4 linked regions of the Homo sapiens genome follow. The protein of the gene in region 4 interacts with the protein of the main gene of each other region in a biochemical or structural test. Each region holds a gene or a part of one and is shown on either strand. Other genes may lie near its edges. The genes, in order: MOB4, MOB1A, MOB3A and LATS2.

What was found.
Region 1: the proteins of LATS2 (region 4) and MOB4 form a complex in vitro, tested with the Homo sapiens proteins (one study listed by BioGRID).
Region 2: the proteins of LATS2 (region 4) and MOB1A form a complex in vitro, tested with the Homo sapiens proteins (one study listed by BioGRID).
Region 3: the proteins of LATS2 (region 4) and MOB3A form a complex in vitro, tested with the Homo sapiens proteins (one study listed by BioGRID).

The regions. Positions count from the first base shown.
Region 1 is NC_000002.12:197,518,858-197,526,360, reverse strand, and holds part of MOB4 (MOB-like protein phocein), read right to left. Parts: intron 2,738-7,503; coding exon 2,675-2,737; intron 1-2,674. Other genes in the region: HSPE1-MOB4 protein, read right to left, coding at 2,675-2,737.
Region 2 is NC_000002.12:74,168,473-74,175,975, forward strand, and holds part of MOB1A (MOB kinase activator 1A), read right to left. Parts: intron 4,281-7,503; coding exon 4,114-4,280; intron 1-4,113. UniProt on the Homo sapiens protein: Activator of LATS1/2 in the Hippo signaling pathway which plays a pivotal role in organ size control and tumor suppression by restricting proliferation and promoting apoptosis.
Region 3 is NC_000019.10:2,072,128-2,079,630, forward strand, and holds part of MOB3A (MOB kinase activator 3A), read right to left. Parts: intron 6,553-7,503; 5' UTR 6,434-6,552; coding exon 6,013-6,433; intron 4,887-6,012; coding exon 4,684-4,886; intron 1,298-4,683; coding exon 1,268-1,297; 3' UTR 1-1,267. UniProt on the Homo sapiens protein: May regulate the activity of kinases.
Region 4 is NC_000013.11:20,988,422-20,995,924, reverse strand, and holds part of LATS2 (serine/threonine-protein kinase LATS2), read left to right. Parts: intron 1-724; exon of another isoform or gene 725-836; coding exon of another isoform or gene 837-857; intron 858-4,520; coding exon 4,521-4,653; intron 4,654-6,620; coding exon 6,621-7,503. UniProt on the Homo sapiens protein: Negative regulator of YAP1 in the Hippo signaling pathway that plays a pivotal role in organ size control and tumor suppression by restricting proliferation and promoting apoptosis.

The sequences.
Region 1 (7,503 bases), on a different chromosome or scaffold from region 4:
TGGTGACAGAGCGAGACTGTCTCAAAAAAATAAAAAAATAAAAAAAGTAAGAAAAAGAAACACATGATCATCTCAATAGGTGCAGAAAAAGCATTTGACAAAATTTAACACCATTTTATGATCTAAAAAGCACTGAATGACCTACGAATAAAGGAAACAACTTCAATATAATAAAGACCATATATGAAAAATCCATAGTGAACATCATACTCAACAGTGAAAAACTAAAAGCTCTCCTCTAAGATCAGGAAGAAGACAAAGATGCCCTTTTTCACCACTTTTATTCAAAGTAGTACTGGAAGGTCTAGCCAGAGCAATTAGGCAAGAAAAAGAAAGAAAACAGATCTAGATTGGAGAAGTAAAATTATATGACATGGGTCTCGTATGTAGAAAACCCTAATGATTTCACATCCAAAAAACCTGTGAGAATAAATGAACAAATTCAACAAACAGGACACTTCCCCCTATTTTTAAAGAGATAACCATCTGTACATTTTTCTTCAAAATTTAACCAATTTCTAGGCATAGAGCTAGATCTAGGTTTATATTCCTTTATCTTCCACAAGGCCTAACTCATTGCTAGCTATATCGTGAGAAGCCAATAAATATTTGCTGATTGAACAGCACTTTTTCTTTTTTTTTTTTTTTTTTGAGATAGGGTCTCTGTCACCAGCCTGGAGTGCAGTGGTGCAATCACAGCTCACCATAAACCCTTTCCTCCCACCTCAGCCTCCTAAGTAGCTAGGACTACAGGTGCACGCCACCTAGCCCAACCTTTTTATTTTTTACAGAGACAGGGTCTCACTATATTGTCCAGGCTGGTTTCAAACTCCCAACCTCAAAGTGATCCTCCCTCCTCGGCCTCCCAAAGTACTAAGATTACAGGTGTGAGCCCCCACACCCAGATGGGTGGTTTTTAATGCTCAAATAATTCAACTATATGTCTCTTTTATTTTCTAAGATCTTCAAATAACATAACAAATCCGAATAGCTGTCTACTTTTTTTTTTTTTTGAGATGGAGTCTTGCTCTGTCCCCCAAGCTGGAGTGCAGTGGCACGATCTCGGCTCACTGCAGGCTCACTGCCTCCCAGGTTCACATCATTCTCCTGCCTCAGCCCCCGAGTAGCTGGGACTACAGGCACCCACCACCACGCCCGGCTAATTTTTTTATATTTTTAGTAAGAGATGGGGTTTCACCATGTTAGCCAGGATGGTCTCGATCTCCTGACCTGGTGATCCGCTCGCCTTGGCCTCCCAATGTGCTGGGATTACAGGCGTGAGCCACCGCACCCGGCCAGCTATCTACTTTTATTATCTGGCTATCAAAATGAAGCCAAACAGCCTCGATTTATGGTATATTTTCCCTTTAAAAATGTTATCATCAGCCAGGGCAACATGGTGAAACCCCATCTCTACAAAAAATCAGCCAGATGTGGCAGTGTGCGCCTATAGTCCCAGCTACTTGGGAGGCTGAGGTAGAACAATCACCTGAGCCCAGGAAGTTGAGGCTACATTTTGCCATGCTTGAGCCACTGCACTCCAGCCTGGGCAACAGGGTGAGACCCCGTCTAAAAAAAAAAAAGACAGGTGCAGTGACTCATACTTGCAATCCCAGCACTTTGGGAGGCCATGGTGGGTGGACTGCTTGAGCCCAGGAGTTCAAGGTGGGCAGCATCGCAAAACCCTGTCTCTACTAAAAATTCAAAACAAAAAAAATTTAACCAATGCCTAATCCAATATACTAGTACGCTCCAATTTATATTATCTTTTTATTAGCCCCTTAATGAAATTGTATTTTTGTTTTTGTTTTTGTTTTTTTTTTTTTTTTTGAGACAGAGTCTTGCTTTTGGCCAGGCTGGAGTGCAGTGGCATGATCTTGGCTCACTGCAACCTCCGCCTCTTGGGTTTAAACGATTCTCCTGCCTTAGCCCTCCCGAGTAGCTGGGACTACAGGCACATGCCACCATGTCTGGCTAATTTTTTATGTTTTTAGTAGAGACAGGGTTTCACCATGTTGGCCAGGATGGTCTTGATATCCTGACCTAGTGATCCACCTGCCTCGGCTTCCCAAAATGCTGGGATTACAGCTGTGAGCCACCACACCTGGGCTATTTTTATTTTTTTAAGATACAAGATCTCACTCTGTCACCCAGGTTGAAGTACAGTGGCACAATCATAGCTCATTAGACCCTTGAAGTAGGATCAAGTGATCTCCCCACCTCAGACTCCCTAGCTACTGGGACTACAGGTGTGTGCCACCATGCCTGGCTAATTTATCTTTTCGTAGAAACAGGGTCTTGTTATGTCGCTCAGGCTGGTCTTGAACTCCTGGCCTCAAGTGATTGGCCTCCCAAAGTGCTGGCAGCCACAGTGCCCAGCTTAATATGCCATCTTAAAACAAAATGAGGGTTGACTAAACTTTTAAATAGGCATTCCATTAATTCAGTGGAATCTTCTCTATGCGAAAAGATATAAGAATACTTAACTATGTCAGAGGTAAAATGCTTAGGTTATTGGAGTTGTAAAAGGAACTATTTTGTTTTGTTTTGTGAAAGAGCACGCTTTATTGGGAAGCAGACTGCTGCACAGTGACCAACAGACAAAGGCCACCCAATGGGCACTTACACATCGTACTCCAAAAGACACAGGGTGAAAAGAAACTATTTTTATTACCTGTTGAACAGCTAGTGTACTGTCCATTTCATCAAAGGATTCATCAGGCCAATTATAGAAATCCTATAAAAATAAATTCACGGTTAAAGCACATACAAAATACTATTATGATTAACTTCAATTCTTAATAAAGACCCAAAGCTCACACTAGAGGGGAAGAAAAAACTTTTGCAATGTAATTATCAGTGAAATAAGGAAATAAATTTTATTCAACTTTTCTTTTTTACAGACAGGGTCTCACTCTGCAGCCCATGCTTGTGTGCAGTGGCACAATCATAGCTCACTACAGCCTCAAACTCCTGGGTGTAAGCAATCATCCCACCTCAGCCTCTCACCTTAGCCACCCTATTCTTAGGATTATAGTCCTGACCCACTGCGCCTGGCTGTTTAATGTTTTTTAAATGAATATTAAGATTTTATTTAATTGAACTATAAATTACGTTTTTTCCAATCACAGATTCCTCAAATACAGCTCCCATAAACCTTTAATGTATTACTTAATTGGGGAGACAAGTCTATCACTTTTTTATGATGGTTAAATATCTCTCAAAAAGTTACAATGAAAAAAAAACTCCAGACACCAAAAAGTAAATCAGATTTTTACCAAAAGAGAATATCTAGCATTAGTAGCTAATTTACTGCTCCATAATTATTATTATTAATATTATTATTATTATTTTGAGACCACTCTGTCGCCAGGCTGGAGTGCAGTGGTGCGATCTCAGCTCACTGCAACCTCCACCTCCTGGGTTCAAGTGATTCTCCTGCCTCAGCCTCCCGAGTAGCTGGGACTACAGGCACGCACCACCACACCCAGCTAATTTTTGTATTTTTTGTAGAGACAGGGTTTCACCATGTTGGCCAGGATGGTCTCAATCTCTTGATCTCGTGATCCGCCTACTTCAGACTCCCAAAGTGCTGGGATTACAGGCGTGAGCCACCATGATCGACCCATAAGTATTATTTTAAAAAGAAATTATAAATTATTATTCTCATTCCAAATAGAGTTTTGAATTTCTAAATCAAAATATGGGCACCATTAAAAAGTAATCATCAGACTGGGCATGGTGGCTTACACCAGTAACCCTACCACTTTGGGAGGCCGAGGCGGAAGGATCACTTGAGGTCAGGAGTTCGAGACCAGCCTGGCCAACATGATGAAACCCCGTCTCTACTAAAAATACAAAAAATAGCCGGGCATGGTGGCGTGCGCCTGTAATCCCAGCTACTCAGGAGGCTGAGGCAGGAGAATTGCTTGAACCCAGGAGGCGGAAGCTGTGGTGACTCAAGATCACGCCACTGCACTCCAGCCTGGGTGACAGAGCAAGACTCCATCTCAAAAAAAAAAAAAAAAAAAAAAAAAGGTAATCACCCATGGGTACAAAAAAAATAGAAAGAATGAATAAGACCTAGTATTTGCTAGCACAATAGGGTGACTATAGTAAAAACCAATTTAATTGTACATTTAAAAAAAACTAAAAGAATCTAATTTTTTGCAACATAAAGGACAAATGTGTTGCAGGAAGTCAGGGACCCCAAACTGAGGGACCGGCTGAAACCACGGCAGAAGAATGTGGATTGTGAAGATTTCATGGACATTTATTAGTTCTCCAAATTAATACTTTTATAATTTCCTATGCCTGTCTTTACTGCAGTCTCTAAACACAAATTGTGAAGATTTCATGGACACTTATCACTTCCCCAATCAATACCTTGTGATTTCCTAGGCCTGTCTTTAATCTCTTAATCCTGTCAGCTGAGGAGGAGGTATGTCACCTCAGGACCCTGTGATAATTGTGTTAACTGCACAAACTGTAGAGCATGTGTGTTTGAACAATATGAAATCTGGGCACCTTGGAAAAAGAACAGGATAACAGCAATTGTTCAGGGAATAAGAGAGATAACCTTAAACTCTGACCACTGGTGAGCCGGGCGGAACAGAGCCATATTTCTCTTCTTTCAAAAGCAAATGGGAGAAATATCGCTGAATTCTTTTTCTCAGCAAGGAACATCCCTGGGAAAGAGAATACACGCCTGGGGGTGGGTCTATAGACGGCCCCCTTGGGTATGGCCGTCTTCTATGGTCGAAACTGTAGGGGTGAAATAAACCCCAGTCTCCCATAGTGCTCCCAGGCTTATTAGGAAGAGGAAATTCCCACCTAATAAATTTTGGTCAGACCGGTTGCTCTCAAAACCCTGTCTCCTGATAAGATGTTATCAATGACAATGGTGCCCGAAACTTCATTAGCAATTTTAATTTTGCTCTGGTCCTGTGGTCCTGTGATCTCGCCCTGCCTCCATTTCCCTTGTGATATTCTATTACCTTGTGAAGTACGTGATCTTTGTGACCCACACCCTATTTGTACACTCCCTCCCCTTTTGAAAGTCCCTAATAAAAACTTGCCGGTTTTGCAGCTTGTGGGGCATCACGGTACCCACCGACATGTGATGTCTCCCCCGGACGCCCAACTTTAAAATTTCTCTCTTTTGTACTCTGTCCCTTCATTTCTCAAACTGGCTGATGCTTAGGGAAAATAGAAAAGAACCTACGTGACTATCGGGGCAGGTTCCCCGATACAAATGTTTATGGTGATGGATACCCCATTTACCCCCCTGATGTGATTATTATACACTGCATGCTTGTATCAAAATATCTCATGTAACCTACAAATATATACACCTACTATATACCCACAAAAATTTTAAAAAGAGAAGGAAACATCAAATAAACCAGCTTTCTGTTAAAGGGAATATTTTTATTTCTTCTTCTTTTTTTTTTTTTTTTTTTTTTTTAAGAGACGAGGTCTCACTTTGTTGGCCAGGTTGGTCTCAAACTCCTGGTCACAAACAATCCTCCAGCCTCAGCCTCCCAAAGTGCTGGCATTACAAGCATGAGCCACCATGCCCAGCTTAAGGGGGATATTTTTATAGAGCATCTTGCCCTGGTTCTGGAATTCTCTGTAGATAATACAGTTAACAGATATTCCCCTAAGTGATTAAGAACCTTTCCATTTGACTGATTTTTCAGAAAAGTTTACCTATGTAACCTCAGTGGGTAGCACAATGCCTGACACATCTTTGAAGCTCAAATGTCTCTGAGGTAAAACTTGGTGGGGAGGAGGTAAGAGTAAACCAATAATCTATAAACCTGTATATAAACCTGTAAAAACAATCAACAAAGATTAAGTCTTCAAAACCTTGAGCAAAAAAAGCAAATTAGAAGTAAACACAGTGTATATAAAATGAATAAAGTTTAGGCCGGGCGCGGTGGCTCACGCTCAGCACTTTGGGAGGCCGAGGCAGGCGGATCATGAGGTCAGCAGATCGAGACCATCCTGGCTAACACGGTGAAACCCCATCTCTATGAAAAAATACAAAAAATTAGCCAGGCGTGGTGGTGGGCGCAAACCCAGGAAGCGGAGTTTGCAGTGAGCCGAGAGTGCAGCACTGCACTCCAGCCTGGGAGACAGAGCGAGATTCTGTCTCAAAAAAAAAAAAAAAAGTTTAAGTGCAAGGCATACTTATGGATATAATGCATATATAGTAAAAGTATACAGAAAAGAAAAGGAATGATAGGGTAGAAGACAGAGAATGTCTTCCATAAGGATTCAACTATAGTAGCAATGTCCCCGTTTGGACAGTAGGTAATGAGTACACCTTTTTAAGTGTCTTAAACATTTCATCTTTTTTGAAATAGCTGGCCTATCTGGATGAAAATGAACTAATTTTATTAAAGGAAAATATCAAGAAATAAAACAATCTTCTAGAAATGGTTCCAGGATTCCTTTTCTTAGACATTATCTATTAAAGAGCAATTCTAAAATTTTTCCTATATGATCTAAAGTTTCTACCAATACTCTGTCTATTCTTTCCTTTTTAAAAAAACTAAGGAAGTTTACAGAATGTTGTTTTTAAAATATTAGAAAACACATGTACAGTTGGCCCTCCATATCTGCAGGTTTAATCTGCAGATTCAATCAACCAGGAATTGAAAATATTCATTTCAGGGGAGAAAAAAAATACAGAAAATGTTATATTGTTGCTGACATGTACTATGTACCTAGTTAGGTCTAAGATAGTTGCGTATGTACTAAACATGTACCGGCTTTCTTTTTGGTCATTATTCCCTAAATACAGTATAACAACTATTTACAGAACACGCATTGCATTAGGTATTATTAAGTAATCTAGAGTTGATTTAAACTATATAACAGAATGTGCATAGGTTATATGCAAACACTATGCCATTTTACTTAAGAAACTTAAGCATCCTCAGATTTTGGTATGGGGTGGGGGTACGGAGTTATCCTGGAGCCAATCCCCAGAGGACACCAATGATGACTATATATAGAAAAGATGTTGAGAATGAAATGTTTCGCCTTCTCATAACTGTGACATATTTTAGATGCCTATGAGAGACACCAAAAATTCAGCTTAATAAAGATTCTCATCTAATTCAACCAACAAACATTTATTGAAAACCAACTATGAAGCCCAGCGTGGTGGCTTGCGCCTGTAATCCCAGCACTTTGGGAGGCTGAGGCGGGAAGATCACTTGAGGTCAGGAGTTCGAGACCAACCTGGCTAACACGCTGAAACCCCATCTCTACTAAAAATACAAAAAAAATTGGCTGGGCGCAGTGGCTCATGCCTGTAATCCCAGCACTTTCAGAGGCCGAGACGGGCGGATCACGAGATCAGGAGATCCAGACCATCCTGGCTAACACAGTGAAACCCCATCTCTACTAAAAATACAAAAAAAAATTAGTCAGACGTGGTGGTTAGCGCCTGTAGTCCCAGCTACTCGGGAGGCCGAGGCAGAAGAACAG
Region 2 (7,503 bases), on a different chromosome or scaffold from region 4:
TCTATTGAAAATTTTAAAAAATTAGTTAGCCATGGTGGCACACGCCTGTAGTCCCAGCTACTCAGGACGCTGAAGTGGAAGGATCCCTTGAGACTAGGAGTTCAAGGTTGCAGAGAGCTGTGAGGGTACCACTGCAGTCCAGCCTGGACAACCCTGTCTCGAAAAAATAAATAAATAAAAAGTTTTAGTCTCCTGTCTAAAGAAGTACCTAAAAACAACTAGGTATTTTCCAAGTTTCTTAAAAAACAAATAGATTTTTTTAAAATGCTATCTTGTAAAAGGAATTTTATACAAAACTCCCTCACTTATAAATCTTCCTCTTAGTCATGTTTCTAAGAAAGTAACACTTAGGTATTCAATATTCACTCAAAACAAAAAATATGCCCAGGTGGAAGTTGGTTTGGTCTAGAAGAGCTATTCTCAAAACGTGGTCCAGGAATCCCCTATCTGAGGGAGGATCTGTAAGGTCAAACCATTTTAATTGTTCTTTTCACTCTTACTCTCTCAAGAGGGCACAATGGTGTTTTCCAGAGGCTCCATGATGTGTAATATCACAACAGACTGAATACAGAAACGGATATAAGAATCCAGGTGTCTATTAAGCCAGACATTAAATAAGATTTGCAAAAATATAAAACAATGCCATACTTCTCACTAAAATTTGTTATGGAAAATAGTCATTTTTCGTAAAAACATATTTATGGTAACATGTAATGGGTTTATTATTGTTATTTTAAAATGAATTTGGGCCGGGTGCAGTGGCTCACGCCTGTAATCCCAGCACTTTGGGAGGATGAGGCAGGCGGATCACTTGAGGCCAGGAGTTCTAGAACAACCTGGCCAACATGCCAAAACCCCGTCTCTACTGAAAATACAAAAATTAGCCGGGCATGGTAGCACATGCCTGTAATCCCAGCTACTCTGGAGACTGAGGTGGGAGAACTGCTTGAAGCCAGGAGGCAGCTGCAGTGAGCCAAGATCGTGACACTGCACTCCAGCCTGGGCGACAGGGCGATACTGTCTCGAGAGAAAATAAAAAATAAAAATAACTATTTACATCTTCTCAGTTTTAATTTCCAACAGAGTATCACGAGATATACCCAATATAATTAAAAGCTCTTTGGGGTTCTCAATAATTTTTTTTGTATTTTTTGTATTTTACCTTGTTTTTCCCCCGACTGGGTCTCACTCTGTTGCCCAGGCTGGAGTGCAGTGGTGCGATCTTGGCTCACTGCAACCCCCGTCTCCCAGGTTCAAGCAATTCTCCTGCCTCAGCCTCCTCAGTAGCTGGGATTACAGGTGTGTGCCACCACACCCAGCAAATTTTTGTATTTTTAGTAGAGCTGGTGTTTCACCATGTTGCCTAGGCTGGTCTCGAACTCCTGACCTCAAGTGATCTGCCAACCTCAGCCTCCCAAAGTGCTGGGATTACAGACATGAGCCACCATGCCCAGCTTGTATTTTACTTTTTTAATTAACACAGAATGGTACATATTTATGGGAATCAATAATTTTTTAAGAGGGTAAGTGGATCTGAGACCAAAAAATTTGAGAACTGCTGATCTACAGCAGTTAAGTCTCAAAGAAAAATCTAAGGCTGAAGGTCAATAAATGACTTCAGAATAACAGATGATAATCTGAATAAAGTTTTGTTTGTTTGTTTGTTTTTGTGTGTGTGTGTTTTTTTAAGATGGAGTCTTGCTCTGTCGCCCAGGCTATAGTGCAGTGGCACAACCTCAGCTCACTGCAACCTCCACCTCCCGGGAAGTGATTCTCCTGCCTCAGCCTCCAAGTAGCTGGGACTACAGGTGCGTGCCACCACACCTAGCTAAATTTTTGTATTTTTAGTAGAGATGGGGTTTTACCATGTTGGCCAGGATGGTCTCAATCTCCTGACCTCGTGATCCGCCTGCCTCGGCCTCCCAAAGTGCTGGGATTACAGGCGTGAGCCACCATGCCCGGCCCTGAATAAAGTTTTTTAAAAAAGGTTTTTTTTTGGCTGGGTTTTTTCCAGCACTTTGGGAGGCCATGGTGGGTGGATTACCTGAAGTCAGGAGTTCGAGACCAGCCTGGCTAACATGGCAAAACCTCGTCTCTACTAAAAATAGAAAAATTAGCCAGGTGTGGTGGCGGGCACCTGTAGTCCCAGCTACTCAGGAGGCTGAGGCAGAAGAATCACCTGAACACAGGAGGAGGAGGTTGCAATGAGCTGAGATCGCGCCAGCCTGTGCGACAGAGCAAGATTCCATCTCAAAAAAAAAAAAAAAAATTAGCAGGGCATGGTGGTGTGAGCCTGTAGTCCCAGCTACTCGGACGGGTGAGGTGGGAGGATCACTTGAGTCCAGAAGTTGAGGCTGCAGTGAGCTATGATCATGTCACTGCACTCCAGCCTGGGCAACAAAGCAAGACCCCATCTCTGAAGAAAAAAAAAGAGATTCAAGAAGCATACACACAGGCCTCTTTGGATCCTGATTTAAACAAAGCATAGATTTTTAAAGCAAAAAAATTTTAAAAAGAAAACATTTGGCCAGGTGCGGTGGCTCACGCCTGTAATCCCTGCACTTTGGGAGGCTGAGGCGGGCAGATCACTTGAGGTCAGGAGTTCGAGACCAGCCTGGCCAACATGGCAAAACCTCCTCTCTACTAAAAATACAAAAATTAGCCGGGCGTGGTGGCGGACACCTGTAATCCCTCAGCTACTGGGGAGGCTGAGGCAGGAGAATTGCTTAAACCCGGGAGGTGGAGGTGGAGGTTGCAGTGAGCCAAGATTTCGCCACTGCACTCCAGCTTGGGTGACAGAGCAAGACTCCATCTCAAAAAATAAAATAAAAAAAAAATAAAAAATAAAAGAAACATTTATGGGACAGTCATGAAAAATGTGAACACTGACCAGATATTTGATAAGTTAAAGGAGGATGGCATTGTCATTATCTTTACAAGTTCTTGTCTTTTAGACATACCTTACTGAAATATTTATAGATAAAACATCATGTCTGGGATTTGCTTAAAATAATCAGGGTGACATATAGAAGAAGAAAAATTGGTCACAAACTGATATTTGTTGGAGCTGGGTAATGGAATGAATACCTGGAATTCACTGTACTTAGTCTACTTTTATATGTTTGAAATTTTCCATTAAGAAGTTTTAGGCTGGGCGTGGTGGCTCATGCCTGTAATCCTAGCACTTTGGGAGGCCAAAGCAGGCAGATTGCCTGAGCTGAGGAGTTCAAGACCAGCCTGGGCAACATGGTGAAACCTTGTCTCTACTAAAATGTAAAAAATTAGCTGGGTGTGGTGGCGTGTGCCTGTAATCCCAGCTACTCAGGAGACTGAGACAGGAGAATGGCTTGAACCCGGGAGGTGGAGGTTGCAGTGAAGCAAGATTGAGCCATTGCACTCCAGTCTGGGCAACAGAGCAAGACTCCATCTCAAAAATAAATAAATAAATAAATAAATAAAAAGTTTTAAACTTTTTATTTAAACTTTTTATTCCTGGAACATCTGAAATCTCTAATTTAAACTTTATTACCCAGAAATGATATCATCTCAGAAATGAGAGACTCTCACATTCAAATCTCTAGCCTTAGCATATTGTCCCATGTCATGCACTTGTTCTCTTGAACTTAAAGTGACTTTCAGCTCAGATCCCTCCATTTTCTCCCAATCTCTCAATTCCCTCTGCCACTCTAAGTCACAACAATCAACTGTCCATATGAACTGCAATTGACTTTTCTGGATATGCAGGCTGATGAGTACTGCTGGGAGTGGAAGTAAAACTGTAGATGGATTTGCTACAAAGTCACAGACCACAACAGGCATAATCTTTTCATTTATCAATCTTTTATCTGACCTTACTCAGCTTTTCATACTATTCTTCTTAGAAATTGCCCAAAAGCACTCATCATTTCTCCTCAGCTCCCTCTACTCAACCTCACAAACTACCACCTAGTACTCTGAAAAGAGCAACATAGCTTTGGATGTATTTGTACTTAATGTTTCTTTACAGATAATTTGTTATATTAAAACAGTTCTAACTGTAAAAGAAAATTCATTAACAAAGAGATTTTAGCAAAACCTTTCTAGAAAACAGCAAAGTTACATTTTAAAACTTACTGTTCACAGCAATCCATTCATTGAGATCCTCTCCCTCAGGCAACATAACAGCTTGTCTCAGATTCCCACTTCCTAGAGTTGCTTCTGCATGTTTTAAGAGTTCATACTGATGAGATCCTTCAGGGATATTCTTCTTTGGTTTGAATGTTTTAGAAGAGCGGCTGCTGCTGTAAGATTAAAAGTGCAAGTATATGAATTTTTAAGACTGGAAGTAGAACAGGTAGAACAACATAATTTTAGGTATATAAAGTAGCCTGTAAAAATAAAATAAAAAATACTCTCTGGGCCAGGCATGGTGGCTCATGCCTGTAATCCCAGCACTTTGGGATCACCTGAGGTCAGGAGTTCAAGACCAGCCTGACCAACATGGTGAAACCACACGTCTACTAAAAATACAAAAATTAGCCAAGCATGATGGCGCACACCTGTAGTCCCAGCTACTTGGGAGGCTGAGGCAGAAGAATGGCTTGAACCTGGGAGGCAGAGGTTGCAGTAAGCTGAAATCGCATCACTGCACTCCAGCCCAGGTGACAGAGCAAGACTCAGTCTCAAAAAAAACAAAAACACTCTCTGAAAAATGCCAAGATAGGAAGATGATGATCACAATACAAGAATGCTTTTTTTCCCCTGCCTGTAAAAGCAAGATTAGCAGCACAATTCCACAAATAAGGCAATTTTACTATGCCCTCTGAAGAAGTCTGGTACAGAGAAACATCCTGGATTTTAGTTCTTGATCTGACACTAACTGTGTCTTCTTGAGAAACTGAACCTTCTTTTGGCCTCAATTTCGGTTTTTTTTTTTTTTTTTTTTTTGAGATGTAGTCTTACTCTGTCACCCAGGCTGGAATGTAGTGGCACAATCTCGGCTCACTGCAATCTCCACCTCCTGGGTTCAAGCGATTCTCCTGCCTCAGCCTCTCGAGTAGCTGGGATTATAGGCATGCACCACCACACCCAGCTAATTTTTTTTTTTTTTAGTAGAGATGGGATTTTGCCATGTTTGCCAGGCTGGTGTCGAACTCCTGACCTCAAGTGATACACCCGCCTCAGCCTCCCAAAGTGCTATAGAAAATGATGGGGCCATGCCGGGCGCGGTGGCTCACGCCTGTAATCCCAGCACTTTGGGAGGCCGAGACGGGTGGATCACGAGGTCAGGAGATCGAGACCATCCTGGCTAACACGGTGAAACCCCGTCTCTACTAAAAATACAAAAATTAGCCGGGCGTGGTGGAGGGCGCCTGTAGTCCCAGCTACACGGGAGGCTGAGGCAGGAGAATGGGGTGAACCCGGGAGGCGGAGCTTGCAGTGAGTCGAGATCGCACCACTGCACTCCAGCCTGGGCGACAGAGCGAAACTCCGTCTCAAAAAAAAAAAAAAAAAAAAAGAAAATGATGGGGCCATGGCTAGGTGCGGTGGCTCACACCTGTAATCCCAGCACTTTGGGAGGCCGAGGCAGTGGATCACGAGGTCAAGAGATTGAGACTATCCTGCCCAACATGGTGAAACCCCGTCTCCACTAAAAAACAAGTACAAAAATTAGCTGGGCGTGGTGGCACACGCCTGTAGTCCCAGCTACTCGGGAAGCTGAGGCAGGAGAATGGCTTGAACCCAGGAGGCGGAGGTTGCAGTGAGCCAAGCTTGCACCACTGCACTCCAGCTTGGCAACAGAGTGAGACTCCGTCTCAAAAAAAAAAAAAAAAGAAAAGAAAAGAAAAAAGAAAATGGTGGAGCCAAGTGCAGTCGCTCACACCTCTAATCCCAGCCATTTGAGAGACCAAGGCAGGAGGATTTCTTGAGCCCAGGAGTTTGAGACCAGCCAGGACAACATAGTAAGGCGGAATGGGGGGTGGGGAAGATAAAAAGAAAATGGCGCAGGGAGGTTTAGTTCAAAAATCCAGTATTCTATATCAAAATATTTGAGACGCCTTGAAAGCAAACCACAGTAAAAGAAACACTAACATCTTTAAGTTTATAATAGGGAAAATAAATGAGACAGGCACAACTCGTTATTGAGGAAAAAATGTTTTTATTCCTATCTCACACCATCCATAAAGTCTTCCTGCACAAAACTCAGAAACCTCAAAGAAAAAGTGGACAGATTTCAAATAGTATCAATTAAAACTTTCATAACAGAGCAAAAAGACAAGTAACCAAATAAAAGTACTTGTAACATATATTACAAAGGATGAACTGGATAATAGAGGGCTTCTGTAACTCGTTAAGAATATAAGGAATCCTTTAGAAAAATAGGCTAAGGAGATGAATAGGCAATTCAGAAGTATGACAATCAATGAGCATGAGAAAAACTGTTCAATTAAAGTAAGATTTATTTTTTCCCTAATCTGAATGTCAAAAGTTTAAATGATTACATTAAATGTGGACTAGGGTAGGGGCCCCCAACCCCAAGGACACAGACTGGAGCCCACAGAAGGAGATGAGCAGTGAGCAAGCAGCAAAGCTTCATCTGTATTTACAGCTGCTCCCCATTGCTGGCATTACCACCTGAGCTCCACCTCTTGTCATATCAGCAGAGGCATTAGGTTCTCACAGGAGCGTGAACACTACTGTGAACTGTGCATGCAAGGGATCTAAATTGCATGTGCCTTATGAGAATCTAAAGCCTGATGATCTGTCACTCTCTCCCATTACCCCCAGATGGGATTGTCTAGTTGCTCAGAGCTCCCACTGATTATACATTATGATGAGTGGTAGAATTATTTCATTATATATTCCAATGTCATAATAGAAATAAAGTGCACAATCAATGTAATGCATTTGAATCATCCAGAAACCATCTCCCCAACCAGATCTGTGGAAAAATTGTCTTCCACAAAACTGGTCCCTGGTGCCAAAAAGGTTAGGGACCACTGGACTAGGGTACAGAGAAACTAGTATTTTAATACACTACTGGTGAAAGTATAAAGTGTAACATTTTGGGAGGGCAATATGGTAGTATCTATTAATACTGAAAAGCTCCTCAAGCCATCCATTCTACTTCTAAATATCTCCTCTAGATATGGATAAGAATTTTTTTCCAAGATTGTTTTTAATAGGGAGAAACCTAGAAGCAATCCTCAAGTTTATCAGTAGAGGATTGAATTAAAGTATGGTACATCCATATCATGGAATATTGTATAGAAGTTAAGAAAACCAGACAGAGTACACGTATTCACAGGGAAAGATCTAATACATGGTTAAACATAATACACAACCAAACGTACAGCAGGAGCCCATTTTGTAAATACATAGAAAATATCAAAAACTAAACTCATCAAAACTGGTGATTACTTCTAGGAAGAGGAATGGAATAGAACTATGGACTTTTACTTTACCTGAGTAATTTGGAATTTAAATAAGACTGATTAAGAAGTAAAAAAGAGCCGGGTGCAG
Region 3 (7,503 bases), on a different chromosome or scaffold from region 4:
GAGATCCCACCACTGCACTCCAGCCTGGTTAGGCCGGGTGCAGTAGCTCATGCCTGTAATCCCAGCACTTTTGGAGGCCAAGGTAGGCGGATCACCTGAAGTCAGGAGTTTGAGACCAGCCTGGCCAACATGGTGAAATCTTGTCTCTACTAAAACTACAATAATTTCCTGGGCGTGGTGGCGCACACCTGTAATCCCAGCTACTTGGGAGGCTGAAGCAGGAGAATCACTTGAACCCAGGAGGTGGAGGATGCAGTGAGCCGAGATTGTGCCACTGGACTCCAGTCTGGGCGACAGTGGGAGACTCCGTTCAAAAAAAATAAAAATCTCAAGATGGTTGTAAATGTGACTATAAAAATCAAACCCTTTATGATACACAAAGGGGCCCTTAGGAAATGAGTCAGAAGCCGGGGTGCAGGACGTGGGGTCCCAGGAGTCCAGGAAGCCCTGGATACAGTCAGCTGAATGTTTCGGAAGAACGGAAGAAGCAGAGTGCATTGAGGAAGAGAGAGGGCTGGGTGCGGTGGCTCACCCCTGTGATTCCAGCACTTTGGGAGGCCGAGGATGGAGGATCACTGGAGGCCAGGAGTTCAGCGAGACCCCTGTCTCTAGTATGACCAAAAAAAAAAAAATCTGTAGAAAAATGGAAGAGATTGGGGAGGGAGGAAAGAGGCTGCCTGGGTCCAGGTTGTGCCTCTGTGTGAAGAGACACCAGCGGCTGCCAGTGGGGAGTGCGGAGTAAAGGCCTGCGGGAGGAGATGTCCGCTCTCAGGGGCTCGGAAGCCCCTCAGCCTCTTGCCTCCCCAACGGGAGACATGTAGGAGGCCGAGCAAGCTGGGTGCCCTTGAGAGACAGGCCCAGGCAGGGCTGTGGCCACAGCAGCCCTGGGGGCTCCCCAGCGAGGTGGAGGCAGAAGTTCCAGGAGCCTGGGAGCCACCCAGGGCAAGGAGTGACCCTGGAAGCCATCCAGCCTCCTGGAAAGTGGAAGTGGTTTAAAAACACAGTGGGCTTTTCCGGTTGCTAGTAACACATAGAATTACAGAGTTCACGTTTTAGTCCCAGACGGGAGACTGAGGCTCGAGACTGAGGAAGGCATCTGCCGTCCGGGGTTGGAGCTCCTGAGGACCAACACCTGCTCAGCGGCTCGGCCCCTGGTCTCCCTGAGATGCTCAGGCCGGAGAGAAGCGGGATGATGGTTCCAGAGCGTCCTCCTCCAAGTCTCCGAGGCCCCAGCGGCGGTTCGGGCACCGGGAGACCCGCGGGGCTCTCAGTGGCACATCCGGGCGGTCATTTCTTTCTGTAAAGAGCAAGCAAGACATCAGCTCCCACCAGCCACTCCTAAAAGGGGTGATGCGAACAGCAGACACACGGAGACGCACAGGCAGAGAAACGGCAGCTGGGGGCTTCCCTGAACACCCAAACAACAAAAACCACACAGGCAATGGCACACCTGAGACCAGGGGCAGCAGGCTACCCCATGAGGCCAGAGAGTCAGCATTTTCAGATCTGTGGGCCAGACGGTCCCTGTCATGATGGCTCAACTCTGTCTTGTACCTCAAAAGCCACCTCAGACGATGGTAACCTCACAAGTGTACCTCGCTGCCAATAAAACTGTATTTACAGCCAGGCTTGGTGGCTCACGCCTGTAATCCCAGCACTTTGGGAGGCAGAGGTAGGCAGATCACCTGAGGTCAGGAGTTCAAGACCAGCCTGGATAACACGGTGAAATCCTGTCTCTACTAAAAATATAGAAATTAGCCTGGCATGGTGGCAGGCACCTGTAATCCCAGCTACTCAGGAGGCTGAGGGAGGAGAATCGCTTGAACCTGGGAGACAGAGGTTACCGTGAGCCAAGATCGCGCCACTGCACTCCAGCCTGGGTGACAGAGCGAGACTCTGTCTCAAAAAAGAAAAAAACAACTTTGGGAGGCTGAGGTGGGCGGATCATGAGGTCAGGAGATCGAGACCATCCTGGCTAACATGGTGAAACCCCGTCTCTACTAAAAATACAAAAAAATAAGCCAGGTATGGTGGCACATGCCTGTAGTCCCAGCTACTCAGGAGGCTGAGGGAGGGGAATCACTTGAACCTGTGAGGTGGAGGTTGCAGTGGCTGAGATCAAACAAACAAACAAACAAAAAAACCCCAGAAACTTTATTTACAAAAACAGGAAGCCAGGCCAGAGGGCTGCAGTTTGCTGATCCCTGTCTTATACAGACTGGGACACTAGAAGGAAAGTTCTGGAATACAGAAAAAAAGAAAAAGAAAAAAGAAAAGAAAAAGAAAGAAAAAAGAGGAAGACCCCACTACCATCTTTAGAGCCACTGAGTATGCAACTATTAATTTTAAATTTAGCAAAATGTTTACCAGTAGCAAAGCCTGAAAGGGGATGCACAAAAATGAGGAAGTTATGTGAAGATGTTTTTAGTCTTTTTTTTTTTTTGAGACGGAGTTTCACTCTGTCATTCAGGCTGGAGAGCTGTGGCGCAATCTTGGCTCACTGCAACCTCCACCTCCTGGGTTCAAACGATTCTCCTGCCTCAGCCTCCTGAGTAGCTGGGATCACAAGTGCCCACCACCATGCCTGGCTAATTTTTTTTTTTCCCCTGAGACAGAGTCTTGCTCTGTCACCCAGGCTGGAGTGCAATGGCGCGATCTCAGCTCACTGCAACCTCTGCCTCCTGGGTTCAAGTGATTCTTCTGCCTCAGCCTCCCGAGTAGCTGGAATTACAGGCGCGTGCCACCATGCCCAGCTAATTTTTTGTATTTTTAGTAGCGATGGGGTTTCACCATGTTGGCCAGGCTGGTCTTGAACTCCTGACCTCATGAGCTGCCCGTCTTGGCATTCCAAAGTGCTGGGATTACAGGCGTGAGCCACCACGCCGGGCCTTAATCTTTTCTTTTCTTTTTTTTTTTTTTTGAGACAGGTTACTGGCTGTCACCCAGGCTGGACTACAGTGGCGTGATCTCGGCTTACTGCAGCCTCAACCTCCCAGGCACAAGCAATTCTCCTGTCTCAGCCCCCTGAGTAGCTAGGACCACAGGCACGCACCACTGTGCCTGGCTCATTTTTTTCATTTTTTGTAGAGATGAGGTCTCACTATGTTGTCCAGGCTGTTCTCAAACTTCTGAGCTCGAGTGATTCTCCCTCTTTGGCCTCCCAAAGGGCTGGGATTACTGGTGGGAGCCACCTCGTCCGTCCATTTTTAACCATTTTTTAAAGTTGTAAGAGAGTGGTGGCTCCCACCTGTCATCTGAATACTTTGGGAGGCCAAGGTGGGAGGATTGCTTGCATCCATGAGTTCAGACCAGCCTGGGCATCATAGTGAGACCCCATCTCTACACACAATAAAAAATCAGCCGGGCGTGCTGGCTGTGGTCCCAGCTACTCGGAGGCTGGTGGGGTCCCGCTCTCACATCAGGATCCCCACATCCATACAGCGCCCAGCAGCCTGGGGAACAATGCAGCCTCTGGGCAGGTTCCAGTGCCAGGCCCTGAATCACGGGCACCCACTCCACTGCTGGTCCCCATCACCGAGACACAATTGTGGGCCCCAATTTCAAGAAGCAACATTGGCTTCAGGGATGTGGACCCCACACCGAGGAATCTGGTCCCTGGGTTCGTCTCCCGATAAAACCTGGTAACGTGGAAAGCAGACAGGCTAGGGCAGATGCAGAGGTACCCGGCTGGCTACAGAAGTCGGGTGGAATCTAGGCAGGTGCGGTGGCTCCTGTCTGTCATTCCAGCACTTTGGGAGGCCGAGACAGGGAGATCACCTGAGTTCAGGAGTTTGAGACCAGCCTGGCCAACATGGCAAAACCTGGTCTCTACTAAAAATACAAAAATTAGCGGGGTGTGGTGGCACGTGCCTGTAATCCCAGCTACTCAGGAGACTGAGGCAGGAGAACTGCTTGAACCCGGAAGGTGGGGGTTGCAGTAAGCCAAGATGGCGCCACTGCACTCCAGCCTGGGTGAGGGAGGCAGACTCCATCTCCAAAAAAAAAAAAAAAAAAAAAAAGGCCAGGCACAGTGGCTCCCGCCTGTAATCCCAGCACTTTGAGAGGCTGAGATGGGCAAACCACATGGTCAGGAGATCCATCGAGACAATCCTGGCTAACACGGTGAAACCCCCTCTCTCCTAAAAACACAAAAAATTAGCTGGACGTGGTGGCGCGTGCCTGTAATCCCAGCTACTTGGGAGGCTGAGGCAGGAGAATCACTTGAACTCGGGAGGCGGAGGTTGCAGTGAGCCGAGATCGCACCACTGCACTCCAGCCTGGGTGACAGAGTGAGACTCCGTCTCAAAACAAACAAAAACAAACAAACAAAAAAAGTCGGGGTGGAGTCTGCTTGTGCCGGCTCGCATCCCTTTCATAAGGGACACTGAGCGGCGCTCTGGGACACCTGAGCTCAGGACGGTGAAGGCGGAGTGAGCTGGACGCGGGGCGGCGCGGAGGAAACTGCACCTGTCGCCGGCATTTGTTCCGTGGGAGAACGCAGGATCCCTCCCAGCTACCTCACCACTTGTCCCATCAGCAGGGTCCCCGGGGCCCAACTCCAGCCGGGGCCGCCAGCTGCTGGGCCGACCGCAAGCAGTCAGGGTCCTGGCCCCGGAAGGGTTCCTCTGCCACGGGCCACCAGCCCCACCGTAACCGCACGCCCTCAGCCCCAAGCCCGCGCACCAGTGGCTCCAGCTCCTTGGTGTCGATGAGGCCGAACTCCTTGACGAAATAGTAGAAGTGCTTGTAGCAGGTGTTCACGTGGGCCTCGGAGCCCATCTGCGCGATGCGGTCAAAGTGGTGGATGTAGACGTGCACGAACACGCGGAACAGCCGCGACAGGATCTTCCGCACCGTCTGCAGGAAGTTCTTGGGAAACGGAGTGCCTGCAGGGAGAGGGGTGGGACGGGTCCACGGACTCAGCCAAGTCCATGTCCAGAACCCTTTGCTCCTGGATGTGACAAGGGGCTTCCAGACAGAAATTGCTGGCAGATCGGGCGCGGTGGCTGACGCCTGTAATCCCAGCACTTTGGGAGGCCGAGGCAGGCAGATCACTTGAGGTCTGGAGTTCGAGACCAGCCTGGCCAACATGGAGAAACCCCATCTTTACTAAAAAATACAAATATTAGCCGGGTGTGGTGGCTCATGCCTGTAATCCCAGCTACTCAGGAGGCTGAGGCAGAAGAATCGCTTGAACCTGGGAGGTAGAGGTTGAAGTGAGCCGAGATCGTGCCACTGCACTCCAGCCTGGGTGACAGAGTGAGACACTGTCTCAAAAAAAAAAAGAAAAAGAAAAGAAAAGAAAGGTACGCTGTACTCTGGAGGGACGTGCCCTAATGATCATCCTCAAACCCACGTTTATGGGGTGTCCCTGAGAGCCATGCAGTGCATTACACATCGAGCTGGGCAGGGGGTCCCGCCAACGGGGTGATGATCCTGGTGGGCCCAGGGGCTCCATGGCAGTGATTCTGAAACCACTGAGAACACTGGGCCCAGCACTGGCAGGGGTGCTTGTCTCCTCTGCGAAGGACTCCAGGCCTGATGCTGATCCTGTCATTCTCTGCTTTGGGGTGAGGAGACAGGAGTCACCAGGAGTGATTCAGGATGAAGGGGGGCTACTAAGAGCAGCCCAACTTAGGAGAATACTCAGAAATGGAATCCTTTTTTTTTTTTTGAGACAGGGTCTTGCTCTGTCACCCAGGCTGGAGTACAGTGGCACGATCATAGTTTACTGCAGCCTCAACCTCCTAGCCTCAAGCGATCCTCCCACCTTAGCCTCCCGAGTAGCTGCGACCAAAGGCGTGTGCCACCATGCCTGGCTAATTTTTAAAATTTTTTGTAGAGATGGGATCTTGCTATGTTGCCCAGGCTGAGCTCAAACTCCTGGGCTCAAGCGATCCCTGGGCTCGGCCTCCCAAAGCGCTGGCATTACGGGTGTGAGCCACTGTGCTCGGCCTCCCTGACTTTTCTGGAAGGCTCTGTATCCCCGAGCCCCTGCCAGCTCTGACTCACCAACGTTGGTGGGGAAGAGGTCCTCGTTGTTGATCTGCGCCTCGATCCAGTCCATCAGCAGGTCCATGTACCTGGGCGCGGAGAGTGCCGTGGGCTTCCGGAACTTATGCTCATCCTGCCAGCGGTACTCATACTTGGGGCCCCCCGACATGACGGGGCAGGACTGCTCCGTGCAGCCGTCGCTGATGGTGCCGTAGATGAGGTTGACGCGGTTAAAGAAGTCCACCACGTGAACAGCCACCCAGTCGTTCAGGTCCTCGCCCGGGGGCAACTGCACGGCCAGCCGCAGGTCCAGCCCGGCGTTCAGCGACGCCTGCGCCTTCTTGTGCAGCTCGAAGCGCTGGGTGCCTGGCTCAAACTTGCGCTTGGGGCGGAATGTCTTGTCCTTGTTGAAGACTTGCTTCAGGAAGGGGTTGGACATCTTGGTGACGCCTGCTCTCCTGGACTTCTGTAGAGGGGTCCTGGGCCAGCTGGCTGGGGGTGCTGACCAACCCGAGAGGCCACGAAACACTCACCAAGCCCCACAGCTCTCCCGCGGACCTGAAATACACAGGGGAATCATGACCTGCTGGAGGCGACAGAATTTCCCGGAAACTCGTGCTGAGGGCACAAGCGGCAGGATTTTGTTTTGTTTTTTGAGACAGGGTCTTACTCTGTTGCCCCGGCTGGAGTACAGTGGTGCCATCACAGCTCACTGCAACCTCTGCCTCCCAGGCCCAAGCGATCCTCTCAACTTAGCCTCCTGAATAGCTGGGACTATAGGCACACACCACCACACCTGGGTAAGTTTCTTTATTTTTAGTAGAAACGAGGTCTCACTATGTTGCCCAGGATGGTCTCCAACTCCTGGGCTCACATGATCCTCTCACCTCTGCCTCCCAAAGTGCTGGGCTTACAGGTGTGAGCCACTAGTGGCAGGGTTCAAAACATCCCCTGGACTTTTGACTTTAAGGAGTTTCACCCAAAGGGGGCCACCTCCTCAGTGGACAGAAGAGAACTGCGCGTGGCGAGGCCTGACCGATTCACAGCAGAAGGTGCGCAGAGCCGGGCCCCAAGAGCCCGCAGGGGCCGCATCTTCCCCGGTGCCGATGCCTGGCCCGGACCTAGACTTGCTGCTACCCAGCACTGTGGGGCTTGAGTGTGGGGCAGGCTGAGATGCCAGTCACAGGGGACTGCATGGCCGGACTACGGCCTCCACAAAGGAAGCCACACCGCAATGCCCGCAGCCTGTGCATGGCAGCCTAGGTGGAAGAAGGTCTCAAGGGACGTCATCTTGGATTCCTTGGGTGGCCCCACAGTCAGTGACAAACATCCTCAGGAGTGAGGCAGATACGGGGGAGACGGCTGTGCGAGGATGCAGGCAGAGATGGGGGTGCTGCTTCCACAAGCGAAGGGTCGCCCAGGATGCTGGCCACCGCCAGGAGCAGAGAGAAGCCTGGCAGATGCCCCTCGGCCTCAGAGGGACCCAGCCCCGCCCACACCTTCGTCTCA
Region 4 (7,503 bases):
TGACACAAAGTCATCAAAGTCTTGTTAGCCTACCACATTACTCTGTAAATAATTAGTAATTGGTAAATAGTGCATGATACACACATTCAAAGAGCATTAAGATTTTGTGAACTTCTGTAGAAGAGGCTGTCCTGAAGAATGGCACGTGTGCAAACTAGATAATGGAGTAAAACTTGGAAGTTGCTGCTGTTGATAATGTTGATTTGAAATTCCCTTTAGCCTGTGCCTTGGTGCATCTCTGCTGTGTACCTTATCTCCATCTTCCACACACCAGGGCAGCCTGCCCAGTGGAACAGACAGTATCTTCTTACTCCCTGCTTGCAGCTCTTTCTTCCTTTCATCTATCCTATGTCACAGTCTAACTCAGTCACTCACTCAATCATTCATTGAACAGATATCTGCTGATCTCTTTCTACACGCTAGACACCAGAACACATACCTGAACTGTCCTCGCCTTCAGTTGGCTTGCAGCTGAACTCTTGCTTTGGGGCAGGGCTGCTCACCCTTTCCACATCTTGGCATGCATAGACGTGGATAATGTTTACACAGCAGCCTGAGGTAAGCTGGAAGAGACTGGAGGTGTCTATTGAGGCTTGGGGAAAAGAACTCATTACATTTCTTTGTATAATTATTGTAAGAAGAATACACAGTAAAACATTAGAGCCATTAAATATCAAACATGCATAAAATCTACAATTACAGTTTTTATGTTTTTTTTTCCCAGAAACACATAAGATACCTTTGTGAACTGTAACAGCTAACCCTTAAGTGATGCTGATGCCCAAGCATGACATCTCCTTTCATCCCTAGAGCAACCTATTAGCCTTATTTCCCAGATGAGGAAACGGGCACTCAAAGTAAGGAAATGATTTGCTGAAAGTTACACAGCTGCTAAGCAGCAGAGGGGAGGGGTGAACCTAGGTGTGTGGCCTCCCTATCTGCGCCCTGTACCACTGCGCCATCCTGCCATCTTTTGGAATAGCCACCTACGATTCTAGATAAGGACCCTTAAATGATGATCTTTATACATTCTTCTTTTAAAAAATATTTTATTCTATTTTTTTTTTTTTGAGACACATTCTTACTTTGTTGCCCAGCCTGCCCTACTTCCTGGACTCAAGCAATCCTCCTGCCTCAACCTCTTCAGTAGCTGGGATTACAGGCATGCGCCATCAACACCCAGCTATTTTTGTGTAGAGACGGGGTCTCACTGTGTTGCCCAGTCTGGCCTCAAACTCCCGGGCTCAAGCAGTCTTCCTGCCTCAGTCTCCCAAAGTGTTGGGATTATAGGCATGAGCCACCACATCCAGCTTGGTCTCCATACATGCTTAAGAAAGGAAGGTGAGTGGCCAAGCTCCTCGGCCAGGCTTCAGCTGCATCTCTCTGACACACTCCTCCCGCATCCTGGCTCCGACCTCTTGCCATTCCCCCGACTGTGCACTTGTCTTCACTCTGTGACTCTGCATGTACTTTGTGCCCAGAGGCCATGTATTTCTGATGGATTTAGAAGTGGATTCCCATTTCCTTCAGTGTTTAAAACATAGCTCTATGTATATGTACAGTAGCATCTTCTGAGATTTAATGTACAGATAGGAAGTACTTACTTGCTAAAGAAGGGTTGATGGACAGATAACAAGGGCAAGCCTCAAAGGACATGGGTTATTTGAAGGGTTTATTTATAAACAAGCCGGCTCATGAGTACGGTTCACTTTTAGGACTTGAAACTCCCTTCTGAACATGAGTCTTCACTTGTGGTCTCCTTGCTGATTTTTCTGAGTTCCTAGATTTGATGCACAATAAACATACACATCTTGAGTAGTGGGTGCTCCATAAACAGGGAGGGAATTTGAGAACATCCACATTGACCTAGTCTGTCCTGGAGCTGTCCCTTCCTTGGCAGTCAACAGGTACTGGGTTAATGAGCACAGGCTGGTGATTCACCCTGCAGGAGACAGAGCGTTGGTCACGTTTCAGATGAAGCAATTGAACGGTTAGTGCTGATGGAAAGGCTTGTGGTTAGAGTCAGCCCCAATTGGCACATTTTTTTAATGGGCGCCAAAAGCTCCAGGGTGATCCCACAAAGATGTGGTCTTATATCGTGTCTTCCTCCAAGCTGTTGAGTCTTCGTAGACGTGATCTCATCGCATAGCTCCCGAAGTAGGCGGTGGTGGGAGTCTTATCTCCTGTCCCAGGTGGGGTCAGGAAGCACTTCCCTTCTGAACCACCGCTGCCTTCTCTCTGCAACTCTTCCAGGTTGTAAACACTTGCCCTTTCTGGTAGTCCAGGCGCCACTTTAACAAACAGGTCTGTTCTTATTACCATTTTCCAATCTGTCACTTCATGTCCCATGTCCCACATGGGCAGGCAACATGGCCTGCCCATGTGGCGGCACCTCCCCAGGCCTTCCACCTCGTGCTCCTCTGCAGCCCCTTGCCTGTCCCTGCCATCTTGCCATGCCCACGCCTGCATTGCTAAGAACACAGTTTACAGCCTGTGTTTTTTGTGCTGCCATTCTGCTGGCATATGGCCAGGACTGGAAAGCTTGATTCAGTATTAGACCATCATATATGGACAATAAGTGCTTAATTTGTTCTAGGCACTGTGTTAAGGGGGCAGAAGCAACCATGAGTAACATGGATTCAGGCCCTGCCAGGTTCTTCTTGTCCTAAGGGAACCACAGACACACAGCTGAGTGCGATTCAGATCATGGGCACCACAATGCCCTATCCAGAGGTGGGGGACACTCAGTGCTGCATCTCTCTCTGCGGAGTGGCTCTGTGACCATGGCCAGGCTTCCTGCTGCAGAGCAGCCCTGCACGGCCTCCCCCACTGTCCGGGGTCTTTCTGTATCTCCACCCCCCCATTTTTTTTTTTTTTTTTTTTTTTTTTGGAGATGGAGTCACACTTTGTCGCCAGGCTGGAGTGCAGTGGCGTGATCTCGGCTCACTGCAGCCTCCACCTCCCAGGTTTCAAGCAATTCACCTGCCTCAGCCTCCTGAGTAGCTGGAACTACAGGCACACACCACCATACCCAGCTAATTTTTGTATTTTTAGCAGAGACGGGATTTCACCATGTTGGCCAGGATGGTCTCGATCTCTTGACCTCTTGATCCACCTGCCTCGGCCTCCCAAAGTGCTGGGATTACAGGCGTGAGCCACCACGCCCAGCCATCTCCACCCCTTTCTTCTCTGCTGTCTGGGTAACTGTGGACTCCTTTCCGGAGCTCCCCGTTCTACATTTTCAGTTTCCTCCTGCCTGGTTGCCCTCCTCGTTGACCTTCAGAGTGCTCAGCCTTTCTTCTTCTGCTGAAGCCCTTTTTGTGGCCTTTGCCTGTTTTTGCCCTTGTCCCACAGCCAGCCTCAACGGTGTTCTTTTCTCTCTGCTCACCCTCCCTGTTTGCCTACAGCTCTGCGGAGCTGTCCTGAAAGGTGAAGGGGGCGCCTTCATCAGAGCCTCACCGCCCCGCGCCACTGGGCTGCATCTCTTCGGTACCCTCCTGCCTATTCTGTCTCCCCCATCTGAGTGCCTCCAGCTCTGCACCCACAGCCGCCCCCAGCCTGACCTGCTGATGCCGTATGTCCCAGTTTGAAAGCTTCCTCGAATGCCTGCAGACAGGAGCAAAACCCTGGAGAGCCTGGCCCCCATCTGTGGGTCCATCCCCCCATCTCCACCTACCCTTGCGTGCTGCTGCCATGGGCCCATCTTTCCCCAGGCTTCTGCTCTGGCTGTCCCATCTGCCAGGAATGCCTTTTCTCTCCCAGGGCTCTCCACCTGCCCAAAGTCTGGAACAGCTAGCCATGCCACCACCTCATCTTTCGGGTGGAAGGAGGCTTTCTCCTGTGGCCCTCATCCATTTTACCTGCCCTCTCCCGTGGTGGCCACCAGTCCCTGTGTTCTTCCCACAAGCAGTTTGAGCTACCTGTCCTGGACCGGTGTGGCTCCATGGGCCCCTGTTTTGTCTCCTTTCTTTCTTCTACGAGTCAGATCTCTAAGGGCCAGTCCTCCGCTGCTATAGCCAGCATGGGGCATTGTAAACAGTAGGCGTGTAATATATGACTCTTCGGCAGCTGCACCCTCTCCCTGGGGACAGGTTTCCTAGTCCCAGAGTTAGCCTGGAGGTGAGCTGAGGTTAAAGCCAGGTTCCCTGACTCCCACAGTTCTTCCCCTTAAATGTTTCTAGTTTTAGGTTCATCCTGAACTCACCAGTCCAACCACAAAAGTTTTCTGAGGAGAAGCAGAATTTAAGTCTCTTTCAGGCCCATCATCAAAATTCCCATATGTCCTTGACATAAGGCTAAATAGTCTATGGTGTGGCTTGTGCTAGGCTTTTGCCATCAGGTACCTGCAGGGCACACAGCCACCTGCACTCATTCTGAGGGTCTCCTGCAGCATATCGCAGGTTCTCAGCAGTACAGAGGCGAAGTGTCCCAGCACAGTCCAGCACGGAGTGGGGATGGGAGTCTTTGGTGGCTTTGTTTTAGGATGACATGCACTTACCTCTCCTTTACTTCCCTCCCAGGAGATGGCTGGCCGAGCTCTCAAGCAGACTGGCAGCAGGAGCATCGAGGCCGCCCTGGAGTACATCAGCAAGATGGGCTACCTGGACCCGAGGAATGAGCAGATTGTGCGGGTCATTAAGCAGACCTCCCCAGGTGAGCCCAGGCCTGCAGCATAGTGGGCAAAGATGGTTTGTGGCTTAAGGACAACAAAACCACGTGCAGAGGGGTCCAACCTGGCCTGGCCTGGCCAGAGCCAGTCTCCTGGCACATTGCCTCATTCAGTTAACAGGCAAGCTGAGCCTGCCCTGCCCTGACAGAGTCAGGCCCTGGCGGGAGCAGCCCCAAGTGGTAGACCGTGGGACACGCCTGGCGCTTGCCCCATCCAGCCTTGTCTGAAATTACCTTAGTACTTCCTACCTAGGGGAAGGTGTGTGCTTGTTTTATGAAAGATCAAAAAAGTCAGCAAAGCGGGCGTAAAAATGGTCTTTTCACTTTCTCTTGGGCCTGTGGAGGGATCTTTGACAAGGGTGGCTTCTTTCCTCAATTCTAAAACACACCTCTCTCACATCGTAGCTTCTGAGAGTGGGGGTTCAATGGCAGGCAGTGTGGGCAGAGCGCTGGGCCCCCCTCAGCATCCCCTGTGATGGGCCTGAGGCACCGCACCAAACCCCTGCTTTTTACTGGCTATGGATGAATGTTACTTTCCCAAGATGGAGCACATGGGCCCTGTGATTGGTACCTGAGGCCCCTGGGGTGTGATAAAGGATTCATGGCCAGGCGCAGTGGCTCAAGCCTGTAACCCAACACTGTGTGGCCTGGTTTTGTTTTGCTTTGTTTTGTTTTGTGTAATCCCAACTCTTTGGGAGGCTGAGGCCAGAGGATGGAGGCAGGAGTTGGAGACCAGCCTGGGCAACAGAGGGAGACCTCGTCTGTATTTAAAAAAAAAAAAAAAAAAAAAAAAAATCCTAGTAATTAGCAAGAGTTTTCCCTATTTTGTGGAAGACCTTGGATAAAACCTACTTCATGTGGGTGAGAAAAATCTCACCTTTGTAAGTTATATCTCCATTGTTAAAAGGACACACATTTTTGTTTTCTTCTTAAGAGAAGGAACTTCCTTAAATAGCCCCCAGCTGGCCATCCATGTCAGAATTCTTCCAGTTTTGAGGCCTTAGAGCACAGCTCAAAGGGAAGGCCAGGCCCATGTTCCGTGCTGATTTCCCTCTGCACTTGCCTTTGGTGTGTCTCTTCACTGACGTCTTCTGGGCCCAGGGAAAACAAAGCCTTGGTGTGCCTGTGACCTTTGTTCAGTGCCAGGCTGTCAGGGCCTTCACTCTGCCAGGTATCGGGGTGGTCTTCCTGTGGGCAAGGCCCAGCCTTTCCACCCTTCGGCACCCTCTGCTAAGCCGAGCCAAGTGGAGCAGTTGGCCTGAAGAAATGAAAGGAACCTTTGTCCTTCCTTCCGGTGTCTGTTTCAGATGAGATGTACAAAATGGAGGTCAGGATTAAGGTAGCAGCAGATGAAATCAATCTGGATATTTGTAGAGGGGTTTTGTGTGGTTTTTATTATTGTGTATATATTGCTTTGTTTTAATATAGACAAAAAAAACTAGAAAGTCTTTTAATTTGGAAAAGAGGTGAAAGAGAAGTGGAGCAGCTGCTGCACAGTGGATACAGTTCTGCCCTTTCTGTGAGGGAGCAGCGCTTTGGGAACCGTGTGTCGGTAAACTCAGCCCCCCACAATTTGGGCATGATAGGGTTTTGAAAAAGCAAAGCTGGCTATGCAGACGGCTCCCTAGCCTGACAGGAGAGTGACCCCAGTGTGGTCCCCAGGGGGCAGGGACGCACCTCGGGATGTGGACGCAGTCTTCTCTTCTGCCCTTGGCCCTCCCATGTGCCCTTCAGCTTGTCTCCACTCTGCTAACACATTAGGGCAACTGGTCCTGCTGGCAGGGCAGAGGGGAGTCCACTGACCCTGTGCTGGGCAGAATGCAGCACGTCAGGGCCCAGGGTTCAAGACCCTCAGCCCCGAGGGCAGCGCTAGAGTGGGGACCAGCCTGGAAGTGCCAGAACCCACTGATCACACCCACTCTGATGCTGTCTTCCTGTTTTTTCCACTGCAGGAAAGGGGCTCATGCCAACCCCAGTGACGCGGAGGCCCAGCTTCGAAGGAACCGGCGATTCGTTTGCGTCCTACCACCAGCTGAGCGGTACCCCCTACGAGGGCCCAAGCTTCGGCGCTGACGGCCCCACGGCGCTGGAGGAGATGCCGCGGCCGTACGTGGACTACCTTTTCCCCGGAGTCGGCCCCCACGGGCCCGGCCACCAGCACCAGCACCCACCCAAGGGCTACGGTGCCAGCGTAGAGGCAGCAGGGGCACACTTCCCGCTGCAGGGCGCGCACTACGGGCGGCCGCACCTGCTGGTGCCTGGGGAACCCCTGGGCTACGGAGTGCAGCGCAGCCCCTCCTTCCAGAGCAAGACGCCGCCGGAGACCGGGGGTTACGCCAGCCTGCCCACGAAGGGCCAGGGAGGACCGCCAGGCGCCGGCCTCGCTTTCCCACCCCCTGCCGCCGGGCTCTACGTGCCGCACCCACACCACAAGCAGGCCGGTCCCGCGGCCCACCAGCTGCATGTGCTGGGCTCCCGCAGCCAGGTGTTCGCCAGCGACAGCCCCCCGCAGAGCCTGCTCACTCCCTCGCGGAACAGCCTCAACGTGGACCTGTATGAATTGGGCAGCACCTCCGTCCAGCAGTGGCCGGCTGCCACCCTGGCCCGCCGGGACTCCCTGCAGAAGCCGGGCCTGGAGGCGCCGCCGCGCGCGCACGTGGCCTTCCGGCCTGACTGCCCAGTGCCCAGCAGGACCAACTCCTTCAACAGCCACCAGCCGCGGCCCGGTCCGCCTGGCAAGGCCGAGCCCTCCCTGCCCGCCCCCAACACCGTGACGGCTGTCACGGCCGCGCACATCTTGCACCCGGTGAAGAGCGTGCGTGTGCTGAGGCCGGA